Linked DNA regions of Homo sapiens. The protein of the gene in region 2 interacts with the protein of the main gene of each other region in a pairwise test. Each region holds a gene or a part of one and is shown on either strand. Other genes may lie near its edges.

Evidence for each region.
Region 1: the proteins of AGGF1 (region 2) and TOR1AIP1 interact in binary tests that used the Homo sapiens proteins (3 or more experiments, as listed by UniProt).

The regions. Positions count from the first base shown.
Region 1 is NC_000001.11:179,885,123-179,892,423, reverse strand, and holds part of TOR1AIP1 (torsin-1A-interacting protein 1), read right to left. Parts: intron 3,115-7,301; coding exon of another isoform or gene 3,112-3,114; coding exon 3,055-3,111; intron 1-3,054. UniProt on the Homo sapiens protein: Required for nuclear membrane integrity. Induces TOR1A and TOR1B ATPase activity and is required for their location on the nuclear membrane. Binds to A- and B-type lamins. Possible role in membrane attachment and assembly of the nuclear lamina.
Region 2 is NC_000005.10:77,061,177-77,065,808, forward strand, and holds the end of AGGF1 (angiogenic factor with G patch and FHA domains 1), read left to right. Parts: intron 1-526; coding exon 527-626; intron 627-1,875; coding exon 1,876-2,076; 3' UTR 2,077-4,058; downstream 4,059-4,632. UniProt on the Homo sapiens protein: Promotes angiogenesis and the proliferation of endothelial cells. Able to bind to endothelial cells and promote cell proliferation, suggesting that it may act in an autocrine fashion.

The DNA.
Region 1 (7,301 bases), on a different chromosome or scaffold from region 2:
GCGGCTCACTGCAACCTCTGCATCCTGGGTATAAGTGATTCTCCTGCCTCAGACTCTCAAGCAGCTGGGGTTACAGTGCACAGCACCACCACGCCTGGCTAATTTTGTACTTTTAGTAGAGACGGGGTTTTGCCATGCCAGCCAGGCTGGTCTTGAACTCCTGACCTCAGGTGATCTGCCCACCTCAGCCTCCCAAAGTGCTGGGATTATAGGCGTGAGCCACCACACCCAGCCTAAAAAGCTTTTTTAAGTCTCTAAAGAAGTGGCCTGAACTTAAGTGAAAGATGAATTAGAGGAAGGTACAATGATTTATAAAGAAAAATGAAGCGTTTCCCTTTTGGCTCATCTTCAAATTTAGAAAATAATTAAAATGTAAAAAAAACTAAGTCTAACAACATTCAATGTAGATTCATTTAAAACCACAAATCATGGTATGTCATGTCCTATAGCCAGGCAGACACTGAAATGAATTAAAACCCGTTCAACGAACGTATTACAGCAAAGGACACTGAACTCGCCGTGAACAACGTATCGAATTCACTTTCTAAATGAAGAAAGGGCCAGGTGTGGTGGCTCACGCCTACAATCCCAAAACTCTGGGAGGCCGAGGCAGGTGGATTGCTTGAGGTCAGGAGTTCGAGACCAGCCTGACCAACATGGTGAAACCCCATCTCTACTAAATATACAAAAATTAGCTGGGTGTCATGGTGGTCATCTGTAATCCCAGCTGCTTGAAAGGCTGAGGCAGGAGAATCACTTGAACCAGGGAGGCAGAAGTTGCAGTGGGCCAAGATCACGCCATTGCACTCCAGCCTCGGTGATAGAGCAAGAGCCTGTCTCGAGAAAATAAAAATAAATAAATAAATAAAAATAAAAAATAAAAATAAAAATCAAGGAGAAAGGCCGGGCGTGGTGGCTCATGCCTGTAATCCCAGCACTTTGGGAGGCCAAGTGGGGTAGATCACAAGGTCAGGGAGTTTGAAACCAGCCTGGCCAACATGGTGAAACCCTGTCTCTACTAAAAATACAAAACAAGTAGCTGGGCGTGGTGGTGGGCACCTGTAATCCCAGCTACTTGGGAGGCTGAGGCAGGAGAATTGCTTGAACCTGGGAGGCAGACGTTGCAGTGAGCCGAGATCGCACCACGGTACTACAGCCTGGGTGACAGAGCAAGGCTCTGTCTCAGAAAAACAAAAACAAAAAATAAATCAAGAGAAAAACCTTAATTGGTAAGTTGTTATCTCCTTTTTCCTAATAGTGTGAATTTAATGAAGACTAGCAGGACTAAATTGATTACATGTTTTTATATGAATTTAAGCAATAATATAGGCATAATTATAGACAACAAAAACCAAGGCTGTTTATGGGAGGTCCTAGTCATAGGGACTGGGTCCCCACAAACTGACATAATAAATTAGTATTCTCAAGCCAATGACTAGATATATATACTCTTGTATTCTATTAATCTGGACCCTCAAAGAGACCTTGTAAGAATTAGAGATAGGGTTGGGCGCAGTTGTGCATGCCAATAATCCCAGCACTTTGGGAGGCCAAAGCGGGTGGATTGCTAGAGCCCAGGAATTCGAGACTAGCCTGGGCAACATGGTGAAACCCCATCTCTATAAAAAACACAGGAATCAGCCAGGCATGGTGATGCATGACTGTAGTTCCAGCTACTCCAGAGGCTGAAGTAGGAGGCTCAGTTGAGCCTCCAGAGTAGCTGGGACTACAATAGGAGGAGGAGGCTGCAGTGAGCCAAGATCACGCCACCGCACTCCAGCCTGGGTGAGAGTGAGACCCTGCCTGGAAAAAAAAAAGAATAGAAATAAACGAACATAATTCACTCATTTTAGTATTTCTATTTGTTTTGTATGTCGAATCTGCAAGAGACATAGCAAGAGAATGATTAGGGTTGAAAAGGAAATGCATCATATGGTTCTTTACCACAGGTTCATTAACAAAACCTTAGTAGATCTTTACCACTGGAATACTTAAAAGGATAGTCAACTATCTATCGAAATAAATCAACATCATTCTTTGATAAAGAGAATGGGAAGGTACAGAAGCCTAATATAAAGATAAATACATTTCCTTTTTAGTTCCCATGATAAAGCATCTTTAAGAGCCAAAAAAACAAGGAAAATGAAGTAAAAGTAGACTGCTTGGAGTGTCTTTACTAGTTTTCTTCATAGTCATGAAATCAATTTCAGGGCAATACTTTTAATCGTTTTAGTCAAAAAGATAACTGAGGGAGGGACATTTTGTCGTTCTGTGCCACAGAGCTCCAGCTTGAATTTTTTGTTAGCAGTATACTGGAAGAATAAAGTCCCTGACCATAGTTTAAAATCATCATAAAGAATCACAGGAATATATAAGAAACAATCTCTTTAAAAAAGGAAGCTTTTTATATATGAATATAGAAATATCTCTGTATATATGTTAAGTAAAAATAAACAAGAAAGTGCAGAAAAGTAAGCCAGGTGCCGTGGCTCATGCCTGTAATCCCAGCACTCTGGGAGGCTGAGGTGGGTGGATCACTTACCCAGGCGTTTGAGATCATGTGGGTAACATGGCAAAACCCCATCTCTACAAAAGATACAAAAATCAGCCAGGCGTGGTGGTGGATGCATAGTCTCAGCTACTTGGCAGGCTAAGGCAGGAGGACTGCTTGAGCCAGAGAGATTGAGACTGCAGTCAGCCCTGGTTGTGCCACTGCACTCCAGCCTGGATGACAGAGCGAGATCTTGTCTCAAATTAAAAAAAAAAAAAAAGACAGAAATGAGAGTTTATAAAGCCAAAATTTGTATTATAAAAAGGACAAGATAATTTCATCCATGAATTTCTGTAAATCTCCAAAAAATATAAACTGACAACATTGGTTGCTTTTGATGAAGAGAGACTGGCTGGCTGAATGACAGAGGGGACAGGGAGATTTTTTAATGTATATTTACAGTAACTTTTAAGTTCTGAATCATATGAATACATGTACAACCATATTTAAAAATAAAACTGTATTTATAACAAAGGTAAACCAACAGACAAACAATCTCTTACCATATCTTGGGTATCTTAGAGGGGGTCGACGTAACCTGATTACAAGATCTTCACTCACTGCTAATATAGGAAGAGAAAACATTTAAAAATATATAAAATGTGAAACATACTAGCTTTATTACATGATCATCCCTTATTTATTCAACAAAGGTTTACAGAGCTTTTATTTACGCTAGAGAAGTAGAGACAAGCTTTCTAAGTGACAACTGTTGCGAACTAGTGATGATAGTGAACTAGAGACAAGTTTCCTGCCATATAAAATTTATAGTCTTGATGGAGAAATTTGCATTTTTTCTCAGCAAACCGTAGCTGTAGGAAGGAAAGAAATACTAAATAAAATTCTTCTAAATTGCTCAATTAAGAACCAAAATCTGTATTATGGTACCAACTCAATTATCTATTCCATTTGTGACTGACCCTCATTGTGGATTATTTATGGAATATTTTAATTTTAGGGTTAACATCCTGAGATTCAATACGCTCATTCTATTTAACCTTGTGTTGAAGAAATGCAAATTAATTTTAAATAAAAACATTAATGTGGGCCAGGGTTTATTTTAGACCATCTATAGTTCAATGGCATAGGGATAGCGGAGAAGCCGATCCTATTAAAATGTTAATTTTAGTCTAGAAAACCACCTATAAAAGTATGTTTTCTCCAAGTACCTCACATAACATGTTCTAAAACCAAATATTTATCAAAATTTGGATTCTATTATGTTTTGTTTCATTCATCTGTATAAAAAAGCATTATGTCTTAGCTCTGAGTTGCAAAAAACACATTCTGGAACTTTGATGATCCCCTTAAATATTCCAGCTCTAAAATTCTATGAAATATCTATCTCAGTATTTCACACATCAAGTATTTAGAACTTATATCGATATCTTTAAAAAATAAATCTTGCCAGCCTAGGCAACATACTGAGACCCTGTCTGGGCATAGTGGTGTGTGCCTGTAATCCCAGCTATTTGGGAGGCGAAGGCAGGAGGATGATAGCTTGAGTCCAGGAGTTTGTGGCTGCAGTATAACTGCACTGCACGCCAGCCTGGGTGACAGTGAGACCCTGTCTCTTTAAAACAAAAACAAAAACCCTGCACACATGATAATAAAGGCAAATTTTAGTTCCTGTTACTCCACATATTACAACTACCTTCCTCTTTTTCTTCTCTATACTTCTAGCCTTTTCAGGTTTAATTAAAACCTAAAATCTGTTTTTGGTTTGTCTGCTTTTACTAAGCTATGTTTAATCAAACTGACTCTACAGACATCAATCACTACTTCAGTTCCCATCTTTTCATTTAAGAAGCATTTCCTGCATGTGCTACTATATACATATCCCATAGCCAAGTAAAGTACTTGAAAGACACAGGGTACCAGAGAGAGGTATGAGAGAACAAAATATCAAGTACCCTTCTTTGGTAGGAGGCTTCCTCACTTGTCTGCTTTTGTTCACCACTGCACCCTCAAATCAAAGCATGGAGACTGGCCCAAAGTAGGTGCTCAATAATTATCTGGAGAATGAATGCTCTAACTACAGCAGCTAGAGAAGCAAATGTTCATGATAAAATAGTAAGCATTTAAGAACAACTATCTGATTGTTTAGCTAGAAACCACACTAGTAGAACAAAAATACCCATTTAACTTCTGGAAAAGTAAATAGAATTTGTCCTAATATATTTTTGGATTATAAAATTAGTGTCATAATTTCCAGAAAGAAATGAATCTGGCCATAGGAGAATAACTGTTATGTAGGTATATATAACCTGAATTGATTAAACAACCTAACGGCTATTTTAAGTGAAAACAACTCAATTATGGAATTTCAAACAATGAGAAGATTTCAAACTATATTCCTGTTCTGAATTAATCAACATTTTCAAGTCTTCCAATAACAAGATAACCAAATGATGTAGATATTTTTACTATGTTGTTTTATAAGGTGGTCCTTTGGTTTAGGTATTTTTTTTTTTTAGACGGACTCTGGCTCCATCACCCAGGCTGGAGTGCAGTGGCATGATCTCGGCTCACTGCAACCTCCGCCTCCCGCGTTCAAGCGATTCTCCTGCCTCAGCCTCCCGAGTAGCTGGGATTACAGGTGCCCACCACCACGCCTGGCTAGTTTTTGTATTTTTAGTAGAGATGGGGTTTTCACCATATTGGCCAGGCTGGTCTCGAACTCCTGACCTCGTGATCTGCCCACCTTGGCCTCCCAAAGTGCTGGGATTACAGGCGTGAGCCACCATGCCGGGCCTAGGTCTTTATTCGTAAGGGCATCTTTGCATAATTTTCTGTCAGACCACACCGGTAGCCTTATATACAATTATAGCACTATTTTGAATATCAAAGTTAAACTGAATGTCTATCATTCTATGAGGAAGAAGGGCTTATCTTTACCTTAAACTTGTACTTAAAGCAGTCCTCCATCAAAGAGTGACTCCATTTAAATAATTTCTCTTAGACTTTATAAGCATTTAATAATTCCCTAAACTCTCCTTTCATTAAGAGGCATGGGATGGGAATATGCCAAGTATTAGATGTAGTATAAAAGCACCTTTTAGAGGAAGAAAACCCTGAGTATCTCAAACCTCTCAAAGACAGACATACTCTTATTTCTAGTAATACTGAAGGCACAGTATGCTATTGATACAGTCCAGGTAATCTATGTGCAGATTCCATTTAATCTGTCATTTATATTGGTAAACATTTTCAATTTCTATTTATAGCATAAGCTTCTTGAGAAAAAGGATACACTTAAGCAAAATTGTATGAACTTCACATCTCTTGTAAAGGGCTATGAGAAAAAAAAAACCTCACTTGCATGTTTTACCGGGTACAAAGTGATTTCAAATGTACTATCTCATTTCTTCAGAGGCCCTGTGAGTTATGCAGGGCAAATAACACAGGTAAAGGCCTAAGGCTCAAGATGAGTGAGTAACTTCACTGAGGTCCAATGCTCTTGCCACAACCTCATGCAGCCATGGTGTACCTCATTAGCAGTTCTTAAATATGAGCCTAATATAAACTCCAAAAAGACTATTCAAGACATTCTATTACTTAATAGTTTTATAATGGTCCGGAGGCTAGCACTCAGTAGTCTTCATTATACCAATTTACTTAACTCCATAATTTTTATAAATTACTCTAGATTTAAAATTAGACATTTTTGCTTTCCCAGGTATACAATAAAATCTACTGCAAATAAATTCAAGATTATGGTTTTCCAAAATGGCCCAGAAAATCTGATTATATCATCATTATTCAAAGCATTTTTCTAAGATAGTTTATAATCTTAACACAGTAACATAGACTATTCAAGGAATATAGGACAGGCCAGGCGTGGTGGCTGATGCCTATAATCCCAGCACTTTGAGAGGCCAAGGCGGGTGGATCACCTGAGGTCAGGAGTTCGAGACCAGCTTGGCCAACATGGTGAAAACCTATGTCTACTAAAAATACAAAAATTAGCCAGGTGTGGTGTCAGGCGCCTGTAATCCCAGCTACTCAGGAGGCTATGGCAGGAGAATTGTTTGAACCTGGGAGGTGGAGGTTGCAGTGAGTGGAGATGGCACCACTGCACTCCAGCCTGAGCAACAGAGCGAGACTTTGTCTCAAAAAAGAAAAAAGAAAAAAAAATTAGCATGAAGGTGTTTTTATTTGAAACTCAACTTGAACCAGACATACTTATTCTAAGTTTAGAATACAATAGCTCACATTATAAAGCATAATCTTATTAGAAACAGGTAAATAAGTCAGGATCTGGGTACTAAAAACCAAGGATTATCAGTTTTAACAGCTATGATTGTTTATTATTGTGAGACTTTCCTAATATCAAAAAAAGCAAATTGAAAATTAAATGGAACTAAAACCCAAAGCATTAATAACTGGACTTGATCCCTTCTCCAGCTTTTTAAAATATTTTAATCAGCTTTTAAAACTTAAGTGAACTATTAAATGTAGCCTACTTCCATGTTACATTGATTCTGACAATTTTTTTAAACACTTTAACATCTTTGAAATTGGGATGCATCATATAATTATGGCATATTACTACAAATTACCAAAAAATTGGCAGCATTTTCCCTTGCTAGGTGGTACATAAAACAATGATGGTGTTTCTTATAGTCGATAGCATCTTAAGATTTGATAAACCACAGTATTAAACTGAAAAGACTGATCACACTGTGTCAAGATTTTACCATGAAGAAAAGTTAATCCATTTTAAACACAGGGCAGTATAACATATTCA
Region 2 (4,632 bases):
AGGAAATTATCAGTAACCCCAGAAGCTTATTCTCCCTGTGCCCCACCTAATCACTGTCCTGCTGTCCTCCCGAAAGGTAATCACCATCCTAACAGCAATAGATTAATTTCACTTATTTTAAAATTTTAATGAAATGGAACAATTCAGTATTTATTTTGTGTCTATATTTTTTGTGTTCCACATTATTTTGTTAGGTATGGTTTATTTTTATTGCTGAATAATATTCTACTGTATCACTATACCACAATTTATCCATTTTAATCATTGCCAGACATCTGGATCATTTCTGATTTGTTGCTATTAGATTTGCTGGAAGAACATTGTTGTATGTGTGTTTTGGTGCACATGCACATGCTTTTCTAAGTAGGATATGTACCAGTGGAATTTGTGTGTCTTCAACTTTGTTAGGTAATGCCAAGCGGTTTTCTAAAGTAGTTGTACCAATTACTTTTAATTCATGAATTTATTATAAATGTGACCTAAAAGATCTTTTATAAATCAACTATCATTTTAATATTCCTTAAAGTGAAATTACTGATAGCAACAAAGGTCGGAAGATGTTGGAGAAGATGGGTTGGAAGAAAGGAGAGGGCCTGGGGAAGGATGGTGGAGGAATGAAAACGCCGGTAAGACTTGGATTTTCTTTTATTCATTTATTCCTAGAGCAGACATTTACCGTGTACATTAATGTGCCAAACGTTGCCTTAAGTGCTAAGAATATAGTAGAAAGCAAAAGGAGACATGATTACTGCCTTTGTGGCATTCACAATTACCAAATATATACATGTGCTTTGTTTTGTGTTTTATATTTTTAGAAAGCCTCTTTTTGAGTTTTTTTCCCTACATTAAAGCTAGGGTGAGAAGTGCTGTTTCCTGAGCCAAAGGTTCTTCTGTGTTTTAGAGTCATTTTTAATAACTGTCAGAGCACTCAAGAACAATCACAGTGTTAGTTTACAAACAGGTGGATTGTGTATGAGCTGAAAAATCTGTTTGGTTCAAGAATCAGAGCATGTAACATGAAATATAGAGAATAATCTCTGGAAAATGACATAGTGGTTTAATTAATGGTCCCATGGTTCGTAGGAGGTTTAGGTTATCTTTCACACAAACCTTAATAAGTAACCTGACTGTAGAACTTTCTGGATAATGAACTTAGTACCTAAAGAAATAATAGATGGATCAGTGTGAGTATATACCAGCTTTCTCATTTTTTTTGAGGTACAGTGGAAAGAACAAGGATTTTGTAGTCAGACCTAGGTTAGAATATGTGCTCTATCATTTACTAGCTATGTGGCTTTGGGCAAGTTTGGACTTTAGTTTTCTTATGAAAAAATGGGGATAAGAACTCTTTTTCAGGGTTGTCTTGAAGATAAAGCCCCTAAGCATTGTACCTTACATTAGGCACTCAGTAAATGGTAGCTTTGAATGTTCTTAAAATATTGAGAAGTGCTCCCCTCCTGTTATGAAAACAATCAAATTCTTTTTATGGTTATTAATGTTTAACCTGCTTGTTCACTTACTTAGATAAGGATAGGACAGTGGGTTTAAACATATCCATTGCCTTTATTTCTGGTTAGGGTGGAATGACATACTCTGCAGCATCTAAATGAAATTTGGTGATTGCTAGTTAAGGAGCACTCTATTTTCTGTAAAGTAGGCTGTACTTATTGACAAGGCAAGACAACATAGAAAAATGAATGTAAGTTCCATGTATAAAGGTATATATATTCCTGTATGTATTTGATGCATCTGACAGGTTTTTCTTTTGCATCAATCTTTAATAAATCAAAAAATTGTAGAGTCCTAAGTTGGACACAGCAGATTTCAATGTGTTTAGACTCTAAAATAAGTCCTCTGCTCAACTTTTGGTAACAGATCCAGCTTCAGCTTCGGCGAACACATGCAGGCTTGGGGACAGGCAAACCATCCTCATTTGAAGATGTTCACCTTCTCCAAAACAAGAACAAAAAAAACTGGGACAAAGCACGAGAGCGGTTTACTGAAAACTTCCCAGAAACTAAGCCTCAAAAAGATGACCCAGGGACCATGCCTTGGGTAAAAGGGACTTTAGAGTGAAGGCTAATCATAGAAAAAAAACCTCTAGTTTTTTTAAAAATAGAATTTGGAAACTTATTTTTTCTCCCCAAAAGAATCAGCAGCACAGGGGAACTATGTCACAGTTTACCTCTTCCTGATTCAGAAATGTGTATGGTTTGCAGCTTTTAAAAACCATTTTTTTAAAACTAATAAATAGTGACTGAACCAATTTATGCAGTAAATAGACTAAAGTTCACAGGGCACGGATGAGTTTATCAAACTTCGTTATTTTATCTTGTCATTTACAACATCCATATAAGCAACTAGCCATATAAGCAAAATTCATAGAACTACTAATGACTTAAGTGTACATCTGTTCTTGTCTCCATATATTCATGTAAGATGCACAACAAAAGAAACATCAGAAGTTTATAAAAATAAATCTGACTATATGCATCCTCATTTATTCCCTTTAGAACCTAGGTAAAAAATGTTGCGAAAACATGGGTAGTGGCGCATACATTTTGTTATCCTTGAAATAGCCTAAGTAATGTTATTGAAGAACTAATGAACAGGTAACATATTGTAGAAAATTAGTCTTTCATTGTTTTCTTCTGTGAAGAATCTGTTGCTATGTACTGTATATTCAGCATTTATATTTGGTTTGTTTCATAGCTAATGAGGTATTTAGATATGAACAACTGAATACATATTGAAATAGTGTGCTGGCTTTTGTAGTTTTGATAAAGACCATTGCAGGCAATGGAATTGTGCCAGAGAAATCTGATTTCTAGTACAAAAGGAATACTTAGCCAGGGCCTCAAGCTCAAGATACTTATTGAAAACATCCTCAATTGCAATAAAAACATTATAACATGAAAAAGAGTGATTTTTTGAACCGGTGATTTAAATGTATTGATCTGCTTTGAATTTTCAAGCAGCCAGAATTTTCTAGTTTAAATTGGCAGAGTTATAACAAAGGAGAGCCTCAAATATTAGACAATTGCAGTGCGGCTTTCTGGGCACAGGTGTCACTGCTCTGCCACCTATCACTATTCTTTTTCTGTTCAGTTTTTCTCTCAGGTGTTTGCTGGGAAATTAACACTGGAACTGACCCTTTTCTGGCAGTGAATGTAAGCTCTAGCTCCCCCATCTACTATAAAGAAATGTCTTCGAGATGTAGAAATAAGGAATATTCTGAAAATAAAAATTATACAGTAGTAAAGATAATTCAGAAAGAAAAAGCTACCTGTTAGAATTTCCAGTCTAAATGGCACAGGGTAGTTACGGAGAAAAGGGGATGGAGAAGGAGAAACTATGACTAAAGATGAGAGGTATGAACGAGTTGTCAGGTTCCTATGGGCTTAAGCTAGGACAATCAGGCCCTAAACTCCAAATTTGGATAAAATATCTCTTTGCATTCTTCTTGGCCACCTGCATAGTCTGACACATACGTATGTACAGTTAGACTTGCAGGCTGCAGGAGTGCCCTGCATTGTTTTCTTTTAATTAGAAATAAAAAGTATTAGTCTAAATGTGGTTCTGGTGCTGGTGCCCTGTATATATGTAACAATATAGGACCCCTCCAAATAGGTTTTGCTTCTGGTGAATCTTGGTCATTGGGTTAGTATATGACTGTCTATAATATTTTCCATTTGTATTATTATATTGGGGAAAACATTTTTTATCATTTTCTATTAAGAAAATGGAAAACTTAAATATGGTGTTAAAAATGGAAATATATGTGATATTTGCATTATTAAACCCCTTTGCAGATCTAAAGTCTCAGGGTTCCACTATTAGTGGTTAAAGTACTGAATAATGTCTGGGTCTATTTCCATCTGTAAAATAAGAATATTTGTCTCACGTGTCTGTCATGAATAGCAAATGAGAAAATGTATATAAAAGCACTTTGTAAATTGTAAAAGTAGTACAGATGTGAGCTTCTATTTGTTTAGAAGCATAAATGTGAATTATATACAGTTTGAATTTTGCATAAATTTTTTGTGTCTAATTTTAAATATTTGTTTAATCACACTACACATTTTCTGAGTAGCGTTTAAGTATGTATTTTAAGTGGAGCTGCAAGTTCTGAATTTTAAGAAATCTAACATCTAATATTTTTGCCAGAACATAAGCTGGCAAAGTTGAGAACAGAAGAAACTTTCAACATTAGAGTAAAATAGAAATTTTTTCCAGTATTAAATAGAGGAAGCACCCTTATCCTCAAAAAGAGGAACTTTTTTCTGCTTTTGAAACAAGTGTTACTTCTGATGTGTCATTTTTATCCTGCATTTATAGAACGTAATGGTTTACGCAAATCAAAAACCTTCTGACTTTCCATAGAATATTTTTAATTTTTTATGATTTTTATTTATTTATTTTTTTGAGACAGAATCTTGCTCTGTTGCCCAGACTAGAATGCAGTGGTGCAATCTCAGCTCACTGCAACCTCAACCTCCTGGGTTCAAGCGATTTTCGTGCCTCAGCCTCCCAAGTAGCTGGATTACAGGTGCATGCCAACATGCCTGGCTAATGTTTGTATTTTTAGTAGAGATGGGGTTTCACCATGTTGGCCAGGCTGGACTCCAACTC